3 separate regions of the Homo sapiens genome follow, and all the other regions are linked to region 1. Evidence: fine-mapped expression QTL. A gene starts in region 1. Each other region holds a variant in brackets. All regions are shown on one strand. Distances are between the middles of the regions. Region 1 holds the start of TNFRSF9 (TNF receptor superfamily member 9). Region 2 overlaps CAMTA1 (calmodulin binding transcription activator 1). Region 3 overlaps TNFRSF9 (TNF receptor superfamily member 9).

Region 1 (8,157 bases):
GCTCTCTGCTCTGGAGTGCGATGGTGCGATCATAGCTCATTGCAGCCTCAACCTCCCAGACTCAGGTGATCCTCCTGCCTCATCAGCCTTCCCTATAGCTGGGACCACAGGCATGTGCCATTATGCCTGGCTAATTTTTTGATTTTTTGTAGAGACAGGGTCTCACCCAGGCTGGTTTTGAACTCCTGGGCTCAAGGAGTCCTCCTGTCTCAGCCTCCCAAAGTGCTGGGATTACAGGCGTGAACCACTGCACGTGCCCAGCCTCCACTGGCAATTCTGATCTAGATGTTCCAGGCACTATTTCTGGAGAAAATGCCCACTTTGCCTATTGAGTTGCTACGACCTCACAGTGTTCCCACGCTGCCTATTAGTATGTTACATTCTGTCTACACTTGATGGGTGCAAAAAAGCTTCAATGATAGCATTCCTTATCTTCCAAAAAATTTAACCCAGATTCTTTATTCCATAAACTAAAGGAAATTATACGTACTTTGTCCAGGGTCGACAGATGCCACGTTTCTGATCGTTAAATGTCCCAAAGCAACAGTCTTTACAACCTTGTATTAAAAATGAAAGCAATAATAAAAGGGAAGCATTTTCATCATTTTGTAACTTTTCCTGTGATGAACTTAATATAAGTCATTACCATAATGCAATCTGCACAAATTGTTCAATAATTCTTGAAACAACACCCTAAGATGGCTAGTTTTTATTTTAATTGTACATAAAGTATTGTATATGTCTGGAACATGTGAAGATTAATGGTTCTGGCAATTAACAAATGTTCTGATTTCAAATTATTTCCATTTATGAAGAAATAACGGAAATATTTTATTAATTGAAATATTTTATTAATTAAAATATGATATATCATATACTCCCTTGTTACTTTAAGGTTCTACAAATCTGTTTGTTTATTTTCAAAGGATCAAGATCAAAGCTAAGTTTGTCTATGTCACAAAACTACACTAGATCAAAGAAACGCAAACGTACCTTTTTTTGTCAGTTCTTGACCTTGTTTACAATCCTGTTCACACATGCTGCATCCTGCCCCCAGGCAGTGAAACCCTGGAGTGCAGTCACACTCTGCATTGCTGGTGGAGGAACACTCCTTCCTGGTCCTGAAAACACCTACAAAGTCCCCCCAGCCCCCAACATTTTATTACACTTGACCTCCAAATCCAGGAAGCGAATTTATGCTCTGCAGTAAAAATCATGCTCACTCTACTTATAGTGTTCCCAGTAATTTTAAAGTTTACTTTTAAATCTCCATAAAGACATTTTTACATTTAGGTAAGTAAAAACTTCTCTCTTGTCAAATGAATGTTTCCTCTAATATTTAGAAAGCTCAGTCCACAAATAATTGCTGTCACTGGATATTATTGTCCTAGACCTGCTGGTTGGCAGAAGAATCAGTCTTTGACACTTGAGATTTTCAAAAGAGAGCAGTTAGTAAATGGGAAAGAAAAGCTTATCTTCCCAACTATCTTCTAGAAGAAGAAAATATCTTTGAACTCATACCTTTACACTGCCTGCATATGTCACAGGTCCTTTGTCCACCTGCGCTGGAGAAACTATTTGGAGGACAGGGACTGCAAATCTGATTCCTGTTATTATCACAGAATGTACCTAAGAAAGGCAGACAATAGTGGTACACGTTTGACAATGGGCAATCGTCACCCAAGGCATTCCGAAGTTTACAATAAAATAAGATTATAAAAGAATGATGAGTTTTCTAGATGCCACAGTGGTGGACATTAGTTTGATTGACTTCCTAAAACAATACATTTGCAAGATTATTCTTTGTGTAATCACAGAATTAGAAATAACAAAATACAGGCCAGGTGCAGTGGCTCACGCCTGTAATCACAGCACTTTGGGAGGCCGAAGCGGGCAGATCACCTGAGGTCAGCAGTTCAAGACCAGCTTGGCCAACATGGTGAAATCCTGTCTCTACTAAAAATACAAAAATTAGCCAGGCGCAGTGGTGCACACCTGTAATCCCAGCTACTCGGGAGGCTGAGGCAGGAGAATTGCTTGAACCTGGGAGGCCAAGGTTGCAGTGAGCTGAGATCGTGCCACTGCACTCCAGCCTGGGCGACAGAGTGAGACTGTGTCTCAAAAAAAAAAAAAAAAACATACACACACAAAAAAAACAAAAAAACCAGATATTGTAACAAATAAATCAACAGAAAGAAAATACTTTATCTATTGAATAAAACAAAATGATTATCTTGATTGATGTAGGAGATGAATATGACTGGATCCAGGAGGACATCAATGTCCTACACTAAAATTTAAATGCGACTGACCGTCCCCACTCTGTTAAGCCCTTTACTACGCGCTTACTCGCTGCTATGCCCCCAGTCGGAGCACAAAGCCCTACACACAAAACTAACATTTATTGAAGTCTTGCCTTGTGCCATGCACTGTTCTAAGCCCTTCATTTGATCCTCCCAGCCATCCTATAAAACAGGTTCTCTTATTATCCCCAGATGAGAAAGTCAAGGCACAAGAGGTTGAATGACTTTGCTGTGTTCACACAGCTAGGTTGTAGCATCCAATAAACATTTGTAAATGAATGAATTTTCATTTTCCTTTCCTTAAAAGGGAGCTCGTTAGCCCTGACTACTAGACTAACTGAACCATACTTCCAACAGAGCAGATCAAATGCACATGATAACTGGGTACTCACCAGCTGGGCAGTTACTACAAGGATCCTGCAATGATCTTGTCCTCTCAAAGTTGAGGACCAGCAACAGAGTGGCTACTATGTTGTAACAGCTGTTTCCCATGATGAAATCTGGCACAGGTATGATACTAGCAAAGCTGATTCCAAGAGAATTTTAATCAAATTAGCTGGTCTCACAAATGTCACTCTGCAAAAGATAAACATTTCCAAGGAAAGGTGGTTTCTCCTTTCAAAATTATCTATATTGCAATCATTACTTATACAATTCTATAAGAGGATAACTCAGGGTTTTTCAGGAACAATTAATGATGCAATATTACGGAAAAGTAGCAGATTCATAGAAACCACTAGGACAAGGCAGGCGTGATTAAACACACAGCTTTGTGCCGGTTTGCCAAAGTTTGAGGGTGCATTTTCCATCATGTTCTGCCAAAATGCAGAAATAACAATAGCAAGAACTTTTGGGGACTTTCATAGGTACTTTGCAGTACCAACCAGCAATAATGCCAATTACTTATTGCCCCTGAAATAAACTCCTTACAAAGAGAATCTGTCAGGGGCATCAGACAATTCAGTTCAAGAAGAAGCTATCACATAATCACTCTTCCCCCTTTAGCTGAACACCTAACTACTAACATGTGGAAAGACCTCCCTGTTCAACTCACTAACACATTTTCTTAAACAGAGACATGTTTTGAGATGTGAAGTTTGTATGGTAACAAAACTAAGGAGTGAAAAACTCTTCAGGCTAAGTTATTGATGTTTATTTAAAGGGCTATTGAAGAGAAGTTATTACATATTAGGAGAAAAAGTCTAGAAATGGGCAAAGGGAGCAAAAGTTCCAATCTCACCCCTTCTCAGTGCCCCCACCCACTCCCCCAGATGGACAGACCTTGAGATCTCAGGGCTGCCGGAGAACTTTCCACTCCTTGGTCTTCAGGCTTCTGCAGCTCGAGAGGACTTCAGGTCAAACACAGGAGTGCGGTGACTCAGCCAGGGGCGGGGTCTCATGGGAAATTCCCACCACAGCTCTGTGACAGCCCTATGAAATCATTCATTTCATATCTGCTGACCCCGAAATCCCCTAGAGCCCCCGTCCCTGCCTGATAATGGCACTTCAAATTGCTTCTTGGAAGCAGCTCTCTACTGTCAGGATGTGTCACAGATGACGCTGGGAAAACGATTTTGTCCCTTAAGATAGCTCTCCAGGACAAAGCATTTAGCATGTCCTTAAAACACTGGATTTGAGATTAGAGGAATGAAACCAAATTCAAAACAGTGATCAGCATTTTGCCATATGCGGTCCCCTAACTCCATAGTCACTGTAATGCAATAGCTGCCATTACTTGAGCACAGCCGATGTGCCAGGCATCAGAGATGCACTGCGGTGAATACACACTATCCTCGAAAGAACCCTAGAACTTGGTATGACTGCTGTTGTTACTGGGAGAACACTATGCAAATGAGGAAAGTGGGGCTGCAAGTGGAATTAGAGCGTCAACAGGACAGGGAGCAGGCAGGGTTGGAACCCAGGTCGGCCTGGTCCCTTATCGTGCTCCTCCGGGCATGGGTGACAGAGGGAGGAAGGAGGGAGAAATGGAGGGAAATGGAAACAGGGGAAGCACAGCAGTCACACGGCAAGTCAATGACCAGGACGTGGTTCGGTGAAGCTGAGAGCTAGGAGGGATTTTTAGAAAACCATGATTTCAATTTTTCTTTAAAAAAAAAAAAAGGAGAAAGAGACCAGGCGCGGTGACTCATGCCTGTAATCCCAACACTTGGGAGGCCGAGGTGGATGGATCATCTGAGGTCAGGAGTTTGACACTAGACTGTCCAACATGGCAAAAACCTGTCTCTACTAAAATTACAAAAATTAGCAGGGAATGGTGGCGGTGGACCCCTTTAATCCCAGCTACTGAGGCTGAGGCAGGAGAATCGCTTGAACCTGGGAAGTAGAGGTTGCAGTGAGCCGAGATTGCGCCACTGCACTCCAGCCACAAAAAAAAAAAAAAAAAGAAGAAGAAGAAGAAGAAGAGGAAGAGGAGGGCAGAGAAAGCAGAAGGAAAAAAAAGTACAGTAAGAGGAGAGGAGGAGTATAAGGAGAAAGAAGAGGGAGAAGAGGAGGAGGAGGAGAAAAATAAAGAGAAAAGGAGGAGGAGGAGGAAGAAGAAAAGAACAGAAAGAGAAGGGGAAGAGGAAGAGGAGAAGGAAGAATGAGGAGGAGAAAGAATGAGACGGAAGAATGAGGAGAAGGAAGAGTGAGGAGGAGAAAGAATGAGAAGGAAGAATGAGGAGAAGGAAAAAGGGGTGTTTCTGGAGGAGGAGGAGGAGGAGGAGGAGGAGGAGGAGGCGGCTGCTCCAGGCTGTAGATGAACCTGCCCATCATTGAGCAGCTGGAGAACCTCAGGAAAACCAGGGGAACTGTGGCTGGGGCAGGCGTGGGCTGGGGAAGGACATCGAGAGTAGCTTGGGCCGTCCTCCTGCCCCGCGGTTCCCAGCACGAGCTCTCCCGACAGAAGAGGAAAACGCGGCGCGACTCGGTTGGGGGACAGCGCTGAGATGCGGACAGATGCGGACGTTCTGCCGCCGCCTGCAGGCAGAGGGACTCGGAGATCAGGCCGCAGAAGCAGAAGAAGGCAGACGGGAAGGAGGAGGAAGGAAAGGAGCCTTGTGGCTTCGTGTCCGACCCTCCCGCCCTTGGCCCGCGTGCCTGGAGCCAGCCCCACCGCGCCCGCGTTTCCTCCCGCGGGACTTCCCTTGGCCCTGGGTCTGCAGCGGGTCCTGCCGAGCTTCCTTCCCTCAGGCAGCCTCTCTCTCCCTGGCCACTCTCGGGGGTGAGGGGGGTTACCGGTTCCCAGTGATTTTTATTCCCTTTGCTCTCTCACGCCTCATGTTCCCCATTCTCCTGCCTCAGTTGTGTAATCTTGAGCAAATTTCTCAACCTCCCTAACTCTGTTTTTGCAAGCACATCTTACAGGTGCAGTGACACCATACATCTTCCTCGTGAGTGAGGATTAAATGAGACGATGAGCATGAAATACTTAGCTCAATGCTTGGCACATAGTTCTCAAGAAAGTAGGAATTGCTATGATCAGACTTACTGGTTTGAAATGTTCCTTCCCTGCCTCCCACACTGACCATCAGTAGAGCCACCACAGGGCAAGTCATGACAGAAAAGGAGAAAAACGCATGAGCTGCCTGCAAAATGTGTTCCCAAATACTGACGGTCATCTGAGAGTTATCTTACCTGTGACATCTGTGGGATCCCTCCTTGCCCCACTTTGGCAGAAATTGGCTGAATGTGAGAGTGTCACACCATAAAAATCGGACTGCTGATCCCCTCCTAACACTTTGAAAGTCACCATCTAACCAAGTAATCTCCTTGTTTACATGTGGTACTCTGTTTAACATTGCAGTGTGACATTTAACTGGGCCATATTTCATTTAACTAAATGCTACTCACTAGTCTACGTTTTGGACATTCTGTAGGCAGAGACATTACTTCCTCTGAAAGTGACATATTTAGTTTCCCAGCACAGTAATTAGCTCACTATTTCAGGCTTTTATGCCAGTAACATAAGAGTCTTTACTGAGCTAAAAGAGTCTCAACATTAGTTTTGCCAGCCCACAGTTAAACAAAGTCAACCACTTCAGAATTCTGCTACTGAAGGCTATGCTCAACTTTACTCAGGCGTTTAAAAAATTCATGGCTGGGAACAGTGGCTCACACCTGTAATCTCAGCACTTAGGGAGGCTGAGGCAGGAGGATCGCTTGAGCCCAAGAGTTCAAGATGACCTGGACAAGATGCCCAGACCCTGTCTCTACAAAAAATACAAAAATTAGCTGGGTGTGGTGGCATGTGCCTGTGGTTCTAACTACTTGGGAGGCTGGGATGGGAGGATTGCTTGAGCCTGGGAGGTCGAGGTTGCAGTCAGCCATGTTTGCACCTGTGCACTCCAGCCTGAGCAACAAAACTAGACTGTCTCAAAAAAAAAAAAAAAAAGAATTCATGTTACTGCATGCATTTTTGTGTGGTATAAAATCATCGTAGTAAGCTAAGTCAAATTATATAGTTAACCAGATATACATACTATCTAAGCTAGCCAAAGGTGTAATACTCTTTTGGTATAATTTTCATTTGCTTTATAACATGTATCATATTGCTTTATCCATTGTAGCCCTGTAATCTTTCAAATGCAACAAAAGCTTTTTCTATTCCATAAAACCATCTCAAACTAAATCAGAGATGACCCCGACAAGACAGCAACACTTTAGCAGTATTAATAATATTAATAATATGTTTCATCCATCCTAAGCAGTATTAATAATCTGTTTCATCACATCCTAAGCATCTCATTCTAAACCAAGAAATAGGCCGGGTGCAGTGGCTCATGCCTATAATCCCAGCACTTTGGGAGGCTGAGGTGGGAGGATCACAAGGTCAGGAGATCGAGACCATCCTGGCTAACATGGTGAAACCCCATCTCTACTAAAAATACAAAAAAAAATTAGCAAGGCGTTGTGGCAGGTGCCTGTAGTCCCAGCTACTCTGGAGGCTGAGGCAGGAGAATGGCGTGAACCCGGGACACGGAGCTTGCAGTGAGCCCAGATCGTGCCACTGCACTCCAGCCTGGGCGACAGGGCGAGACTCCATCTCAAAAAAATAAATAAATAAATAAAATAAAAAAAAAATAAATAAATAAATAAACCAAGAAATAGATTTTATTTCATTTTGATTGACTATAGGTCTAATCTTGAATATCTCAAGCAGCTAAATACTTTGAGGCTAAATAGCATGAAGGCCCAACAATTCTAAACAGGATAAAGGAGACATTTAGAAAGAGAAAGCCCTCAAAATAAGCTTCCTATAAAATATTCTTCCGCCCTTCCAGGGCGCATCTTAGAGGGAATCTCTTCCGTGGGATATTCACTGTTTACACTTGTTTTCTGCCTGAAAGATCTATTCTTTCAAGATTCAGTGTCGCCACCCCTACTCCAAACACCCAAACTAGTAGTCACTATTAGACATACCTGGTGCTTGTGATGTCAGTAGGTGTTCTGAGGCCTGGGAAGGAGTAAATTGTTTTTAAACTTGGAACAAAGAAAATGAGCAGGAAATCAAAGAGGAAGGAGGCAGAGTAAGGAGAAGGAAGTACGAATCATAAGGAGAGGCGGGTGTCAGCAGCCATCGACTTTGCTCACCTTTCCTCCTTGTTCTGCCCTTTCTCCAGGTGGCATCCACTCATATGCTAAGGCTTATCAATAGTTGTCTCCAACTTCAGACCACCCCCAACACTGTGCAGTCCCCAGGACAAGAGTACAAACAGAGGCCTGCTTACCATGTGTCCAAATATTTAGAAATTGTTCATCAATCCAAATACGCTGTTAAGTATGTTCTGTCCAGAGCAGAGACACAAACACACAAACACAATGAACACAGAGCTGCGTCTGTGACTGGGTGTCT
Region 2 (8,182 bases), 200 kb before region 1:
GCAGTCTAAAGAAAGTTTTTTAGCCAAATGAGAAGATAACACTTAAAAATAATGAAATAATTTTAGAAAAAGTGGCAAAACCGTTCATAGAGGAGTGAACAATCAAACAGTAAAACTGAGCAATTATCGATAGTGTGGTATATGTGAGAGGAATTTGTTAGGAAGGGACTCTTTAAATAGAAGACGAATAATGTTTAAACTATCTCCTAGAACTAAAATTCTAAATTATTTTAACAAAACCAGGGAGTGTAGGGAAATGAAGAGAGTAAAAGTGTATGAAAGCTCTCGGGTTCAGGGACAGTAACAGATTTTGTTCCACTCGTGATATAGATAGATGTGCGCTGGATAGGCTGAAATATGCTAGTTAGAAATGTTGGCCGGGCGCGGTGGCTCACACCTGTAATCCCAGCACTTTGGGAGGCCGAGGCGGGCGGATCACGAGGTCAGGAGATCAAGACCATCCTGGCTAACACGGTGAAACCCCGTCTCTACTAAAAATATAAAAAATTAGCCAGGCATGGTGGCGGGCACCTGTAGTCCCAGTACTCGGGAGGCTGAGTCAGAAGAATGGCGTGAACCCAGGAGGCAGAGCTTGCAGCTAGCCGACATCGCACCACTGCACTCCAGCCTGGGCGACAGAGCGAGACTCTCTCTCAAAAAAAAAAAAATGTTAAGTTGGTAGGTAGCATAAAAACGGGCTACAGAAGGACAGGTGCGGTGGCTCATGCCTGTATTCTTAGCATTTTGGGAGGCCAAGGTGGGAGGATCACCTGAGTTCAGGAGTTCGAGACCAGCCTGGCCAACATGGTGAAACTCCGTCTCTACTAAAAATACAAAAATTAGCCAGGTGTGTTGGCAGGTCCCTGTAATCCCAGCTACTCGGGAGGCTGAGGCACAAGAATTGCTTGAACCCTGGAGGTGGAGGTTTTGCTGTGTTAGCCAGGATGGTCTCGATCTCCTGACCTTGTGATCTGCCTGCCTCCACCTCCCAAAGTGCTGGGATTACAGGTGTGAGCCACCATGCCCGGCCTCGGGTTGTTTTTTTTTTTTTTTTTAAATAAAAGCAGGATATACTATATGCTACTTGTAAGAAATACAATCAAAATGAAATGAAAGAGAAACAATGAAAATGAAATGATAGATAACAGCTATAATAGATAAACGAGTATAAAAAGAAAGATAAAAAGTACAATTCAAGGCAAATTAATGTGTGTGTGTATATATACATATATATATACATACAGTTTATCTAGAAGATATGACAGTTATAAACTATTGTGTACCTAGCACCATAACCTTGAAACATTACAGCAAATACTAGTAAATACAAAGAAATGTGGACCCATAATCACAGTGTGCTACTAACACACATAGCTCAGAATTTTTCAGATCAAGTAGATATGAAAAGCATATGAACAAGTTGAACAACAAAATCAGAAGGCTTGATTTCATATATATTTACTATATGATAGATTTAATATATGATATACTTATATATAACTATATGTGTGTATGTAGTTAATACACATAGCAACTACGTATATAATTGTTCTTTTCAGGTGTCCAAGGCATGTTTATGAAAACTGCTCATATACTAGGACACGAAGAAAATTTGAATAAAAATCCAAAGCTACCCATTTAAAGGCCGTCTTCTCTGAGCACAATCCATGAAATTTAGAAATGAGTGACGTGACTTTTCAGGTCCAACTACTGAGAACGTTACTTAAGATGTTTTTACATTGTTACATGTTTATAAAATGGAGGATTTAGGAAAGTGATTGTAGAGTGATAACCTTTTAGGCTTCAGAAATTCCACCTTACTTTTAATATATTTGAATACTTTCATGGAAAAAGAATAAAGCAAGATTTACTTCCTACCGTTTGAGTCACAAATCAAGACGGCCAATAGAGAAGGTGAAAGAAAGCTGCAATTTTTTTTTGAGACAGAGTCTTGCTATGTCACCCAGGCTGGAGTGCGGTGGTGCCATCTTGGCTCACTGCAACTTCCATCTCCTGGGTTCAAGCAATTCTCCTGCCTTGGCCTCTCTAGTATCTGGGATTACAGATACTGTAAGAAAGCACTAGGCCTGCACCACCATATCTGGCTAATTTTGGGGGTTTTTTTGGGTAGAGACAGGGTTTCGCCATATTGCCCAGGCTGGGCTTGAACTCCTGAGCTCAGGCGATCCACCCGCCTCGGCCTCACAAAAGTGCTGAGATTACAGGCCTGAGCCACCACGCCTGGCCCAATATATTTTTCTTAAATTTTTTATTTTTATTGTTATTACAAAAACGAATTGTTCTTTGATGAAAATTTATAAAATTATCCACAATAAGCATTTTTAACAGCTTTATTGAGGTATAATTTACGTATGATAAAAAATTTATAAAATTATCCACAATAAGCATTTTTAACAGCTTTATTGAGGTATAATTTACGTATGATAAAATTTACCCATTTTAAATGCTCAGGGGATGGCTTCTAGTAAACATATACAGCTGAGCAACCATCACCATAGTCCCTTTCTAGAACACTTCCATCTCACTGCACGGTGCCCTGTGCCCATCTGCAGTCCGTCTCTGCCCAGCCTTAGGCAACCACTGATCTGATTCTATCCCCAGAGGTTTGCTTTTTCTAGACATTTCATGTAAGTGGAATCATGCACCATGCAGCCCACTGCGGCTGTTTCCACTTAGCAGGATGTTGTTGAGGCTCCTTCGTGTTGGCAGGAGAAGCATTTTGTCACTTTGTATAGTTCCATCGAGAACATTTTCAGTTCACTTAAGAACCCGAAGTGCTGTGTTTCAGTTACCACTCCTAAGAGGTATGCAAGGACATTTTTAAGAATCAGTCCACATCTCTGATTCTCATAAAGAATATCTTAATCCAGACCAGCTTTGAGGATTCTTTTTTTCTTTTCTTTTCTTTTTTTTTTCTGAGACGGAGTCTTACTCTGTCGCCCAGGCTGGAGTGCAGTGGCGCGATCTTGGCTTACTGCAAGCTCCACCTCCCAGGTTCATGCCATTCTCCTGCCTCAGCCTCCCGAGTAGCTGGCACTACAGGCGCCCGCCACCACGCCCAGCTAATTTTTTGTATTTTTTAATAGAGACGGGGTTTCACCGTGTTAGCCAGGATGGTCTTAATCTCCTGACCTCGTGATCCGCCAGCCTTGGCCTCCCAAAGTGCTGGGATTACAGGCGTGAGCCACTGCGCCTGGCCTCTTTTTTTTTTTTTTTTTTTTTGAGTTGGAGTCTCGCGCTGTCGCCCAGGCTGGAGTGCAGTGGCGCGATCTTGGTTCACTGCAACCTCCACCTCCCAGGTTTAAGTGATTCTCCTGCCTCAGCCTCCCACGTAGCTGGGATTATAGGCAAGCACCACCATACCTGGCT[A/G]ATTTTTGTATTTTTAGTAGGGACAGGGTTTCATCATGTTGGCCAGGATGGTCTGGAACTCCTGACCTCAAGTGATCCACCCACCTCGGCCTCCCAAAGTGCTGGGATTACAGGCATGAGCCACTGTTCCCAGCCTAGACCGGGGTTCTCTAGGCCAGACAAAAGGGGGTGGTTAGATATTGGTTATGTAACTAATAGTGACACCTCATTAATATTACAGGTTACTCTAGAACTGCCCAGTGTCATTAATTGGTTGACCCTGAGAGTAGGGAGTACATACAAGCCAGAAGTTCTCCAAGACTGGACTAAAGGTTTGGGGCCAGACTATGACTTGGAGATAATCAGGTCTCAGGATCTCAGCACATTTTGGTGTGTTATGTTATAACCTTAAAATGGTATTTCATTGCATTGGATTGAGGTGGAAGTCTGCCCTCCTGCCTGATTATTTTTTTCTCTCCAAGGCGAGGCAGGGAGGTAGACCTGGATAACTTGTAAGGTTCCTTTCTAACCTGAGTGTTCTGTGAACTTCTGACTTCAGGTGAACATGATGACCTTGGCAGAACACATTATTGAAGCCACACCTGACCGAATCAAGCAGGAGAATTTTGTGCCCATGGAGTCCTCAGGATTGGAAAGAACAGACCCTGCCACCATTAGCAGTACAATGAGCTGGCTGGCCAGTTATCTAGCGGATGCTGACTGCCTTCCCAGTGCTGCCCAGATCCGGTGAGTAAAGTTACGGAGGTCACTACCCAGCATAGATTCCCGGATGTAATTGGAGGCAGGGGAGGCTGATTGTATTTGATGAATGCCGTGTCATAGAAGACCATACCAAGGAAGGAAGGAAGCATGAGGACAAGCTCTGTTGCCACTTTCAAGGCCCAGCTCCTATTCCTACCTCTCCCATTATTTTTTTTACTGCTATCAGAGCATAAGAGATCGTGTTAAGCTGGGCGCGGTGGCTCATGCCTGTAATCCCAGCACTTTTGGGAGGCCAAGGCGGGTGGATCACCTGAGGTCAGGAGTTTGAGACCAGCCTGGCCAACATGGTAAAACCCCGTCTCTACTAAAAATACAAAATTAGCCGGGCATGGTGATAGGCGCCTGTAATCCCAGCTACTTGGGAGGCTGAGGCAGGAGAATTGCTTGAACCCAAGAGGCGGAGGTTACAATCAGCTGAGATTGCACCACTGCACCCCAGTCTGCGCAACAGAGCAAGATTCTGTCTCAAAAAAAAGAAAAAAAAGAGAGATAATGTAGCATAATGTTTCCCCCTAATTCAGCTGAAGTTTTCTAATGGCAGTAGAGTGTACTGCTACTAGGTTTTAGTATTTAGCATAGTACTAAAGTTATGATAGGTGTTGAGTATAAACTTACTCAATCGAAGGACACTGGGTATGTTTAGCAACTTGCCTAACTGAATGAAGGCATGTTCCTAATTGCCCACAGTGGCTTCTGGCAGATACCATCTTGGCTCATTCATTAATATCTAATGGGTGGTGCAAATCAATCATTAATCTGTCTCTCCTTTTTCTCCTCTTGTTTCAGAAGTGCATATAACGAGCCTCTAACCCCTTCTTCTAATACCAGCTTGAGCCCTGTTGGCTCTCCCGTCAGTGAAATCGCTTTCGAGAAACCTAACCTTCCCTCCGCCGCGGATTGGTCAGAATTCCTGAGTGCATCTACCAGTGAGAAGGTAGAGAATGAGTTTGCTCAGCTCACTCTGTCTGATCATGAACAGAGAGAACTCTATGAGGCTGCCAGGCTTGTCCAGACAGCTTTCCGGAAATACAAGGTAAACTAGAACAGAACCTTCGTTTTGTGACATTCTTAAGATCAGAGAGGACAGATGAAAGTCAGAATCATGCGAACAAAAACATTTACTATTTCTTTTTTTCCTCTGAATTTGTAGAATTTTTTTGGAAGTCTCCAATTTATTAAGATTCACTATATAACATATCTGTGTGTGTATCTGCTTTGTAAAAATATTTTATGGTAAAATATTCATAACATAAAGTTTGCCATTTTGTCTGTTTTAAAGTGTGCAGTGTGGGGGCATTAAGTATATTCACAGTGCTGTGCAACTGTCACTGCTACCCATTTCCAGAGCTTTCTCATTCTCCCAAACCATTTGCTTTTAACAACCAATTTTTAAACAGTTAAACATGAAATTTTTATCAAATGTTTACAAAGTTCCTAAAGCACCTTCATAGAAGAGTTTCAGAAGCGTAGTCTTCTCAGTTATCTGAGGCATAGAGAATAACTGGCTGGGACAAGGGCCCATCCATGGTTAGGCCAGGGCGGGAATGGGGCTTTTCCGGCACAGAACAATGCTGATTTTTCTTTTTCTTTTTTTGAAATGGAGTCTCATTCTGTTGCCAAGGCTGGAGAAGTGCAGTGGTGCAATCTCTGCTCACTGCAACCTCCACCTCCCAATTCAGGTGATTCTCCTGCCTCAGCCTCCCAAGTAGCTGGAATTACTGGCGCGTGCCACCACACCCGCCTAATTCTTGTATTTTTAGTAGAGACAGGTTTTCACAATGTTGGCCAGGCTGGTCTCGAACTCTTAACCTCAAGTGATCCGCCTGCCTTGGCCTCCCAAAGTGCTGGGATTACAGGCATGAGCCACCGCACCCAGCCTTGATTTTCCTATTCTACCTTGCCATCCTGAGTACAATGTCTCTTTATTATTCCTTAAAACAAATTTCATGAGTTCATAGAATTTTTAATTAAAGTTATTAATGTCACATTAAATAATTCTCAGAAGCTTTAGTAAAATAATGTTAGCCAATAATGTAATGGTTATCACCATGTCAACATACTGTTGGTAATGATAATGCGTATTATTCAGTTAATATAAAGTAAGGTGACCCCTCTGCTGCTAGGAGGTCGTGACCTAAAGCAGGGGTTTTCAACTGGAGGCCTGGGGGCTGACTCCAGGCAGCCCCTGAACTCCTAAAATTAAGCAGTAAAGCTTTTTCTGTGTGCATTTTTGGTGGGAAGGGGACCCATGGCTTTCTACAGATTCTCAAAGTAGTCTCTAACCACTCCCAAAAAAGTGTTAAAAGCCATTAATCATTGATCCAAAAGTAAAGTAGTTGGGGTTATCTTAGGAAAGATAGTTGAGATCTGGCAAGACAAACAGTACAATGCCTAATTTGTTAAATACTTTAAAAGGGAATATATTTTTAGTCTGCTTAACATTCCAATATCATAGTTTTATTTAGAAGCAAGGATAGTCTAAGGTTTATTCTATAAATTCATTTTTCCTCATTTATAATTAATTATCAATATTTTTTGGTAAACCTGGGATCTCAACTCTGAGAAGGTGCATTAAATGAGTAGTAATAAAAAGCTGACATTTCTGGTAGTTAATCATTACTGATTTTTTTTCTCCTTACTTTACCCTTAAGGGCCGACCCTTGCGGGAACAGCAAGAAGTAGCTGCTGCTGTTATTCAGCGTTGTTACAGAAAATATAAACAGGTAAACCTCAGTTTTGCACCACAGAAGGAAACTGTGCCCCACCCAAGGCCACTGAAGATCCTGGTTTGGCTAAAGAGCACTACATCTAGTACCTCATTACAGAGACTTAATTTGTTTTTTGGTTGTTTTTTTTTTTTTATTTTTTTTTTGAAACGGAGTCTGGCTGTGTCGCCCAGGCTGGAGTGCAGTGGCATGATCTGGGCTCACTGCAACCTCCACCTCCCAGGTTCAAGCGATTCTCCTGCCTCAGCCTCCCGAGTAGCTGGGACTACAGGCGTGTGCTACCATGCCCAGCTGATTTTTCTAGTTTTAGTAGAGTCGGGGTTTCACCATGTTGCCAGGCTGGTCTTGAACTCCTGACCTCAAGTGATCTGCCCGCCTTGGCCTCCCAAAGTGCTGGGATTACAAGCATGAGCCGCAGCGCCCGGCCAGAGACTTAATTTGAACTGCCATGATAAAACAAACAAACAAACAAACAAACAAACAAACAAAAACAGGGGAAGCCACACATGATGGCGTGTGCCTGTAATCCCAGCTCCTCAAGAGGCTGAGGCCGGAGGATCTTCTTGAACCCAGGTGTTGATGTCCAGCTTGGACCTCGTCTCAAAAAAAAACCAGAGGAAAACAAAATAAAACCATCTGCAATTAGACTTGTACCGCAAAAGGGTTTTTGTCCAAATTTTTGATCTTTTAGTAATATTACCTACCTGAGATACTGGTCTGATCCTAACACCAGTATCTTTGCAGTGAGGATCCGTGGTCCAATACTTTGATAAACTCCCTAGTAATTAGAGAACTGTAGGGAATCCAGGGTGTGATACCGTGATTGGAGAAAGTAAATGCTGGCTATTTATTACCTTTGAGTTTGAATTATATAAGGTATTTAATCTTTGGCCATTTTCCTTTCAGCTTCTTATCCATTTTAAAATGAAGAATTGTTAAAATCTTTGAAAATCAGAAGAAGCTCAGAACATCTTAAACTGCTTTTGTGCACCTTAGTTAAAGGTGCAAGAAGATTATCTAAGTACTCTTTCATGCAGTATTTCTGTTTGCAAACCACCTTGTAGGGTTATGTAACTAGTCAGATGGGAAAGGGAAGTCATATTTTTGGGGCAGCTAGTATGCACTAGATTTTTTAGGTGCCCCATCTCATTTCCTTTTTACAATTATTTGAAGTAAGCAGTATTTATTTCCAGTTTACAGATGAAGAAGCTGAAGCTCAGAGAAATTACATGAATATTAGGCCTTTCTCATTATCAAGGTGGTTATAAAATATTAAAAATTGCCTAATGGAGTTTTGACTGGTT
Region 3 (8,182 bases), 29 kb before region 1:
GCCAGTAGAACCCAGTACTGGTCAGATCAGACACCAGCTACACAAGCTTGAGAGGCCACTTCTCCCCCTGGGCCTTGACTTCTATTTCCCCTCTGATTTAGAAATTTTGTGGCTCTGCGTCATTGATTGGTATGTAAATTGGCATATATATTACTCTGTTCTCATGCAGCTAATAAAGACATAATTGAGACTGTAATTTATAAGGAAAAAGAGGTTTAATGGACTCACAGTTCCACATGACTGGGGAGGCCTCACAATCATGACAGAAGGCAAAGGAGGAGCAAAGGCACAATTTTTTTTTTTTTTTTGAGACGGAGTTTTGCTCTGTTGCCCAGGCTGGAGTGCAGTGGCATGATCTTGGCTCACTGCAACCTCCACCTCCCAGGTTCAAACCATTCTTCTGCCTCAGCCTCCCGAGTAGCTGGGACTACAGGTGCGTGCCACCACACCCAGCTAATTTTTGTATTTTTAGTAGAGACTGGGTTTTACCATATTGGCCAGGCTGACCTTGTGATCTACCCATCTCGGCCTCCGAAAGTGCTGGGATTACAGCCGTGAGCCACCATGCCTGGCCTCAAAGGCTTATCTTACATTGCGGAAAGACCTGCCTCCATAATTCAATTACCTCCCACCAGGTCCCTCCCAGGACACACGGGGATTATGGGAGCTACAGTTCAAGATGAGATTTGGGTGGGGACACAGCCAAAGCGTATCAGCGTAGCTTTTTGAAAGTTAATTAAAAAATATTTTTTAGTACTGGGCTTACGCCTGTAATCCCAGCACTTTGGCAGGCCGAGGTGGGCGGATCACCTGAGCTCGGAAGTTCGAGACCAGCCTGGTTAACATGGTGAAACCCCATCTCTGCTAAAAATACAAAAATTAGCCAGGCATGGTAGTGCACCCCTGTAATCCAGCTACTCAGGAGGCTGAGAGAGGAGAATTGCTTGAACCCAGGAGGTGGAGGTCGCAGTGAGCTGAGATCGCACCACTACACTACTCCAGCCTGGATGACAGAGCAAGACTCTGTCTCAAAAAAAAAAAAAAAAGAAAAAAAAATTTAGGTCAAAAGAGGAATTTTATTTTTAAAAAGTTCTTAAACAGCACTATTTTATATTTTTTTTTGAGACGGAGTCTCACTCTGTCACCCAGGCTGGAGTGCAATGGCACAATCTCGGCTCACTGCAACCTCTGCCTCCCAGGTTCAAGCAATTCTTCTGTCTCAGCCTCCCAAGTAGCTGGGACTACAGGCGCCCACCACCACGCCCAGCTAATTTTTGTATTTTTTGGTAGAGACGAGGTTTCAACATGTTGGCCAGGCTGGTCTCAAACTCCTGACCTCAAGTGATCTGCCCGCCTTGACCTCCCAAGATTACAGGCGTGAGCCACCGCGCCCAGCCTTAAACAGCACTCTTGTGCCACAGAAGCACACACAGTACAGTCATTTTCATCTGCAAAGCATATGTATGTGTTAACCTTACACAAGCCATCCAGGAACTTGCCTTTTAAAAGTAACAGCGTGTTGTTTAAGGAGGATTCATTTGTAAAGCTTAATATATGACATTGCTGGAGTTCAAAATGAAGGCCTCAGAAGCAAGTTTTTCTCTAAACTTCTCCTGCCCTCCTGTCTCTGGCCCCTCATTCTCCCCGCAAAGGCTACCATGAAACATGAATCCCCCTTCCCCAAGGTGGGTCACAGAAACCAGAACCCCTTTTTCCCAAAGCCAGCCTTAAAACCTGAGAAGATTACTCTAACTCCCCCTGCCCGCCCACCCTGCCTTTCTTTGTAAAAACCGGCCATAAAGAAATTCTCTGACCTACCTTGTTTGGCTGTAGGTCACCAGGCTCCCATTCCAGAGAGGGTCCTGCCTCACACCCAGAAGGAATGAAGGCTGCACAGAGAGGCCAAGAAGGCCCTACACAGAACCCCCAGGGTCTCCCCACTCAGTCCACTAGCATCAGATCAGAGCCTTTTTGTCCAATCCTATCTCTACATGGCTGTCCATACTCTGTTGAACCTAAGCATAAAAATTGACGTCTGTATCTTTGGGTCTTCATTCTGAAGGCTCCCATGTAACATAAAACTATGATCAAATAAATTTGTATGCCTTTTCTCCTATTAATTTGGCTTTTGTCAGTTGATTTTCAGGAGCTCTTTAGAGAGCAAAGAAGAAATTTTCCACTGGCCCCCAACAGAATATTTTTTGTTTGTTTGTTTTTGGGATTTTTTTCAGACAGGGACTTGCTCTGTCTCCCAGGCTGGAGTGCAGTGGCACAATCATGGTTCACTCAACCTGTTGGCAGCCTCAACCTCCTGGGCTCAAGTGATCCTCCTGCCTCAGCCTCCCAAGTAGCTGGGACTACAGGCGTGAGCCACTACGCCAGGCTAATTTTTTTAAATTATATTCTGTGGTGACATAGGCCTCATTAACCCTCATTAACTTGCCCAGGCTAGTCGTGAATGCCTGGGCTCAAGCGATCCTCCCATCTCGGTGTGAGCCACCGTGACTGCCTCTACAGAATGCCTTACATCAAAGGGAAGCCCAGGCTCATTTCAACTTCCCAGTACTTTTGTAGTGAATAAGGAGGAATTGGGACCCAAGACGGCTATCAGACCGCAAAGGTGCACAGCGGGTGTCCCCCACATTACACAGTTTGCTTCGATTGCCTTCTTGGGACCTCTTAGAACCAGGGTCTATATTTGGAAACAGCACAATTGCAGGATGTGTGATCATAATTGCACTGAATTATAAGCATTTCTTGCATCAGAAATTCTAAATTACTTAATAGAAGTGAGTGTTATTGTACTGAGCATGGCTAAATACGTTACTCATGTTTATTAAATGAGAATCCAAGAAGAGCATTTACTGGGTGCTTGATTTGTGTGAGGCACTGGGCTAAATACCTTATTCATTTATTCTTTGAAACAGCCCCACGTAATTTTACAGATGAAGAAACCAGGGTTTAGAGGATTATGTAAACTGCCTAAGGACCCTCTGCTACGAAAAGGTGGTGGCTGCAATCCAACCTCAAAATTACTGGGTCCAAAGCCCGTGAAGTTAACCCTGACACTAAATGGCCTCAAAATTGTTTAATTAAGTATATCAGGCCAGGCACAGTGGCTCACCCCTGTCATCCCAGCACTTTGGGAGGCCTAGGCAGTGGATCACCTGAGGTCAGGAGTTCGAGACCAGCCTGGCCAACATGGCGAAACCCCGTCTCTACTAAAAATACAAAAATTAGCGGGAGTGGTGGCAGGTGCCTGTAATCCCAGCTACTCGGGAGGCTGAGGCAGGAGAATCGCTTGAACCCAGGAGGCGGAGGTTACAGTGAGCCAAGATCGCGCCACTGCACTCCAGCCTGGGCGACAGAGTGAGACTCTGTCTCAAAAAAAAAAAAAAAAATCAGATGGAAGACTTTTCTGTGGATTCTGGCTTGTTATATACCTTAAATAAACAACAGTAGTGAAAAGAAATCTTTAAGAACTATCATCCAGGGATTTCTTTGGTATGCCAGCATGTGCTGGTCAAATACCATCTTATCTCCCTGATCTGGGTTTGACAGGCTCATCTCTTTCTCACTGTGGTCACACTGTTTTATTTCTGTGAAGAAATATGAACCTGAAAG[A/G]GGGAATTCTTCAAGATAGATCCCTAGTGGCTAACTGAGCCTAAATTTAAAATAGAGCCAAATGGCTAAAATAGTTAGCCATTTGCTAACTAGAAGTCACACAGGTACTCTGAGATTCCTGAAAACCAGCACCTTCTTAATGTTGGGACTTTTGGAGCTCACCTGCCTCCACCAACCAGGGCTCAGCTGTATCGACTAATGAGGACTCAGCGGCATAAACCAATCAAAACTAAGCAAGTTTCAGTCTTTCATTTGCATAAACAGACCTGATTGGGAACCTGGGCAGGAACTTTATAACACGCAAATCCCCCTTTTCTTGTTGTTTTTCTTTGAGATGAAATCTCACTCTGTTGCCCATGCTGGAGTGCAGTGTCATGATCTCAGCTCACTACAACCTCCACCTCCCAGGTTCAAGTGATTCTTCTGCCTCAACCTCCTGAGTAGTTGGGACTACAGGTGTGTGTCACCATGCCCGGCTAACTTTTTTATATTTTTAGTAGAGACGGTGTTTCACCATGTTGGCCAGGCTAGTCTCGAACTCCCAACTTCCGGTGATCCCTCTGGCTCTGCCTGTGACCTCATGTGCCCTCCACTGGGGCCCCCACAGAGTCCAGAGCTGTCCCTGGAACAGCTCTCCTCCCTCCCCAAGCTCCATCCCAGGACTTCTCACTCTGCCCTGCCAGGAGCCAGCAGTCCCCTCTGCAGTATTCCTGTCTCCATTCACTTGTAACCACGTACCCCCATTTTTCTAAGAAATCGTTTATTTTTTTTTTCTCTCTCTCTCTCCTTTTCTCATTCCCCTGGTTCCCCACTTCCTACTTTGCCCTTTAAAATGCAAGTATAGCTTTTTCTTTTTTTTTTTTTTTGTTTTTATAGAGGGCAAGTTCCTCTAACTCTGTGCTCCAAGACTCTCCTCAAGAGCTAATAGTCGATTTACAAACCAAAGCATGCATGCCTGCTACGGAACTCCCACCCTCCAGGAGGTTGCCTCGGAACTCCCTCCCACCAAGAGACGTGAGAGATATGGGACTCTGTCCTACCTGGGGAGTTTTCGGCCTAGTCCTGCCCATGAAGGCACCGGCAGTCTCTAGCTCAGCCGCCCAGTAGATAAAGCACTAGATCTAGCCTGCAGACCACGCCCGGCCCTGCTCACTTCCTCCCCTGCCTTTTCAACGTGCCGTCTTTCTGCTCCAAAGGTGAAGCGGGACACTTAAGATAGGACACCTGTATTTCTTCCCCTAAGCTAGCTTTGGGATAAATCACTGTCTTCATACCACACCTCGCTCTTGTTAATCGGAGTCTGCAAGTGAGTGACTAACCCGCGTTTCAGTTACACCCTCCCTGCAGTCAGGGAGCACTTTCTAAAAGGCAAATCCAATCAAATCTCTTCACTGGCTTCCTAGTGACCACATGTTAAAATCAAAGCTGCTTTTTTTTTGTTTTTTTTTTGTTGTTGTTTAAGAGACAGAATCTCACTATGTTGCCCAGGCTGGTTTTGAACTCCAGACCTCAAGGGATCCTGCTACTTTGGCTTCCCAAAATGCTGGGATTACAGGGTGAGCCACTGCTTCTAACTAAAATCCGAGGGTTTTTTTTTTTGTTTGTTTTTCTTTTTTTTTCTGGAGTGCAGTGGCGCGATCTCGGCTCACTACAAGCTCCGCCTCCCGGGTTAACTCCGTTCTCCTGCCTCAGCCTCCCGAATAGCTGGGGCTACAGGCCTCCGCCACGACGCCCGGCTCATTTTTTGTATTTTTTAGTAGAGACGGGGTTTCACCGTCTTAGCCAGGATGGTCTCTATCTCCTGACCTTGTGATCCGCCCGCCTCGGCCTCCCCAAGTGCTGGGATTACAGGTGTGAGCCACTGCACCCGGCCAAAATCTGAGTTTCTTATATAACTTATAAAATCTGGCTCTCTGGTCCCTGCTCACCCTGTGGCTTCCTTCCCCTCTCCTCAATCCCAGCCCCAACTCTCCCTCCCATGTGCCTGGGCCCATGGCTCCTTCTGAGAAGCACACTGCCTGGACAGGCATCGCTTCCTCTGCATCCCGCTTTCCCTCCCTTCCCTCTCCCCCCTCCCCCCTCCCTCCCCCGCCCCCTTCCCTCCCCCTTCCCCCTCCCCGTCCCCCAACTCCATCCCTCCCTCCCCTGCCTCCCAGCGGAGCTCCCTGGTGCACAGCTGCCCCTTCCCCACATCCCCCCCACCCGCCACCGTGAGCACCAGGAGGGCAGCTGCTCTCACTCCCCTTTTGCCGTCCATCCATGGTGCTTGGTGCCTGGTGGCGTTGTGTTGAATGAAGATTCCTCTTAGAGAAAGCATCTTGTACCCCAATGTGGATCTTAACACGTTGGACATGTCATTCCCCTCGAATGAAAGTTCCCAGGCAGGAAGTGAGTTTTACCTTATCATGTGGATGTGTGGATCTTATCAGGTTAGACATGTCATTCCCCTAGAATGAAAGTTCCAGGTGGGAAGTGAGTTTTATCCTTGTGCTTGTGTCCTGATGTGGTTCCTGGTGCAGAGTAGACACCTGGATGGCTGCTAGTTCAGTGAAGGAGTCATTTGGATCCAATAGTCAGCATCTTCAATGAATGTGTCAGAATCTGCCTCTTCAATGAATTTGGAAAAGTTGTTTGAAAGGCTTCAATGGCTTAGTGAATTTTAAATACAGCTATCTGAATCAATATTGATGTAACAACAGTTTTTTCTTTTTTTTGAGACAAGGTCTCACTTTGTCATCCAGGTTGAAGGGCAGTGGTGCATTCATGGCTTACTGCAGCCTCGACCTCCTGGGCTCAAATGATCCTCCCACCTCAGCCCCCCAAGTAGCTGGAACTACAGGCATGCACCACCATGCCTAGCTAATTTTTTGTATTTTTGGTAGAGATGGGGTTTTACCATGTTGCCCAAGCTGGGAAAACAGCATTTTTTTTTTTTTTTTTTTTTTTTTCCTGAGACAGAGTCTCACTCTGTCTCTCGGGCTGGAGTGCAGTGGTGTGATCTCAGCTCACTGCCACCTCCACCTCCCAGGCTTAAGTGATTCTTGTGCCTCAACCTCCCGAGTAGCTGGTATTACAGGCGTGTGCCACCATGCCTGGCTAATTTTTGTATTTTTAGTAGAGATGAGGTTTCACTATGTTGGCCAGGCTGGTCTTGAACTCTTGGCCTCATGTGATCCACCCGCCTCAGCCTCCCAAAGTGCTGGGATTACAGGTGTGAGCCACTGTGACTGGCCAAAAACAGCATTCTTCTTTTTTTTTTTTTTTTGAGACAGAGTCTCGCTCTGTCGCCCAGACTGGAGTGCAGTGGTGGGATCTTGGCTCACTGCAACCTCCGTCTCCCAAGTTCAAGTGATTTTCCTGCCTCAGCCTCCCAAGTAGCTGGGATTACAGGTGCATGCCACCACGCCCGGCTAATTTTTGTATTATTTAGTAGAGGCAGGGTTTCACCATATTGGTCAGGCTGGTCTTGAACTCCTGACCTCTGGTGATCCACCCCCCTTGGCCTCCCCAAGTGCTGGGATTACAGGTGTGAGCCACTGCACCCGATCAACAGCATCCATTTTTATGTAACTAATAAGTCAATTGTTGAAAGCAAAAGGAATCTCATACTGGAAATCTTTAGCATCCTTCGGCACTAAAAGCCAAAGTTTACAAAGAATGGCACCTTATTTCATGATTACCCTTTATGATATGATGTTGCAACAGTTATAAAAAGCTTTTTAAAATAAGGTCTTTTTTTCTTATTCTTTTTTTCCTGTGAACATCATAGTTTTGTGTTTTATTAGATAGTCTTTTAAATAAAAACGTTGATAAAGATCACTCTCCAAGTCCTACCACACACAGGGCACATGTAACCTGCCCTAGCTGCGGTGGGCACCTCTCACCCACAGATGGAAACATCTTCCTGTGGGGGAAGATGCCCACTTTATAGTCATCCGCCCCTCACATCAAAACTTTCCGTCAGAGTGATATCTTCCACTAAAGAAAAAAAATTAAAACTTTCTTCTGAAAAAAACCTGAGCTTGTTTTTAGCATTTAGAAAATGATTTATAATTTGTGTATCCCTAAATGTGCTAATTTATTTTTAATCATAGAAATTTACATTTATTTCTATTAAACCTAATTATGGAACTTTCTAAATTAAACCCAGAAGGGGATCATTTTATTCTGTCTCAATGTTCCTTCCTTATTAATTGTCATTTAGGGGGAGCAATGACTCACATGCCAAGTTCCTGTGTTTTTCATTTATAGCTTTTGCACATGATACCAGAATAGGCTATGATAAAAATATCACAGTCTGTATCATAAACATAGCCTCCTTTCTTCACAGAATAAACTGTGGATTTTCGGTGTGTAACCTAGGACACATGAGAGCCTCGCTCCATTATCTTGGATACCCCAACCCTGTGGGGCATGACCAGTCTCTTTCTGTTTGTGGATAGTCAGCAGTAGGTAATTAAACACCATGTGTCCAAAGCCAAGAGGAGAAATCACTTTAGAACTTACAGCATCATGATTCAGAAAGACAAAAATATTCGCACCTAGCTTTGTTCCTGAA

What was found. PIP is the estimated chance that this variant, and not a neighbour inherited with it, causes the effect. A credible set is the group of variants that fine-mapping cannot tell apart.
Region 2: its variant is the best candidate, but not a certain one, in a credible set for the expression of TNFRSF9 in whole blood (TOPMed, PIP 0.83).
Region 3: its variant is the best candidate, but not a certain one, in a credible set for the expression of TNFRSF9 in blood mononuclear cells (TOPMed, PIP 0.65).

Annotation. Positions count from the first base shown.
Region 1 is chr1:7,937,200-7,945,356 of GRCh38, forward strand. TNFRSF9 (TNF receptor superfamily member 9) reads right to left here and starts at 3,640. Exons shown (of 8, transcript NM_001561.6): 1 at 3,585-3,640; 2 at 2,696-2,879; 3 at 1,522-1,629; 4 at 994-1,131; 5 at 491-557. The coding sequence starts at 2,795. RefSeq lists a silencer at 5,344-5,483.
Region 2 is chr1:7,740,907-7,749,088 of GRCh38, forward strand. CAMTA1 (calmodulin binding transcription activator 1) reads left to right here. Exons shown (of 23, transcript NM_015215.4): 17 at 3,929-4,116; 18 at 4,939-5,185; 19 at 6,804-6,875. Among named protein-coding and RNA genes, the nearest start is that of VAMP3, 26 kb to the right of the region's middle. The variant A/G (reference allele first, on the strand shown) is at 3,391.
Region 3 is chr1:7,908,517-7,916,698 of GRCh38, forward strand. It overlaps TNFRSF9 (TNF receptor superfamily member 9), which reads right to left. Exons shown (of 8, transcript NM_001561.6): 8 at 7,355-8,182. It also overlaps a transcript of UTS2 not described here. Among named protein-coding and RNA genes, the nearest start is that of TNFRSF9, 28 kb to the right of the region's middle. RefSeq lists an enhancer at 2,373-2,874. The variant A/G (reference allele first, on the strand shown) is at 3,625.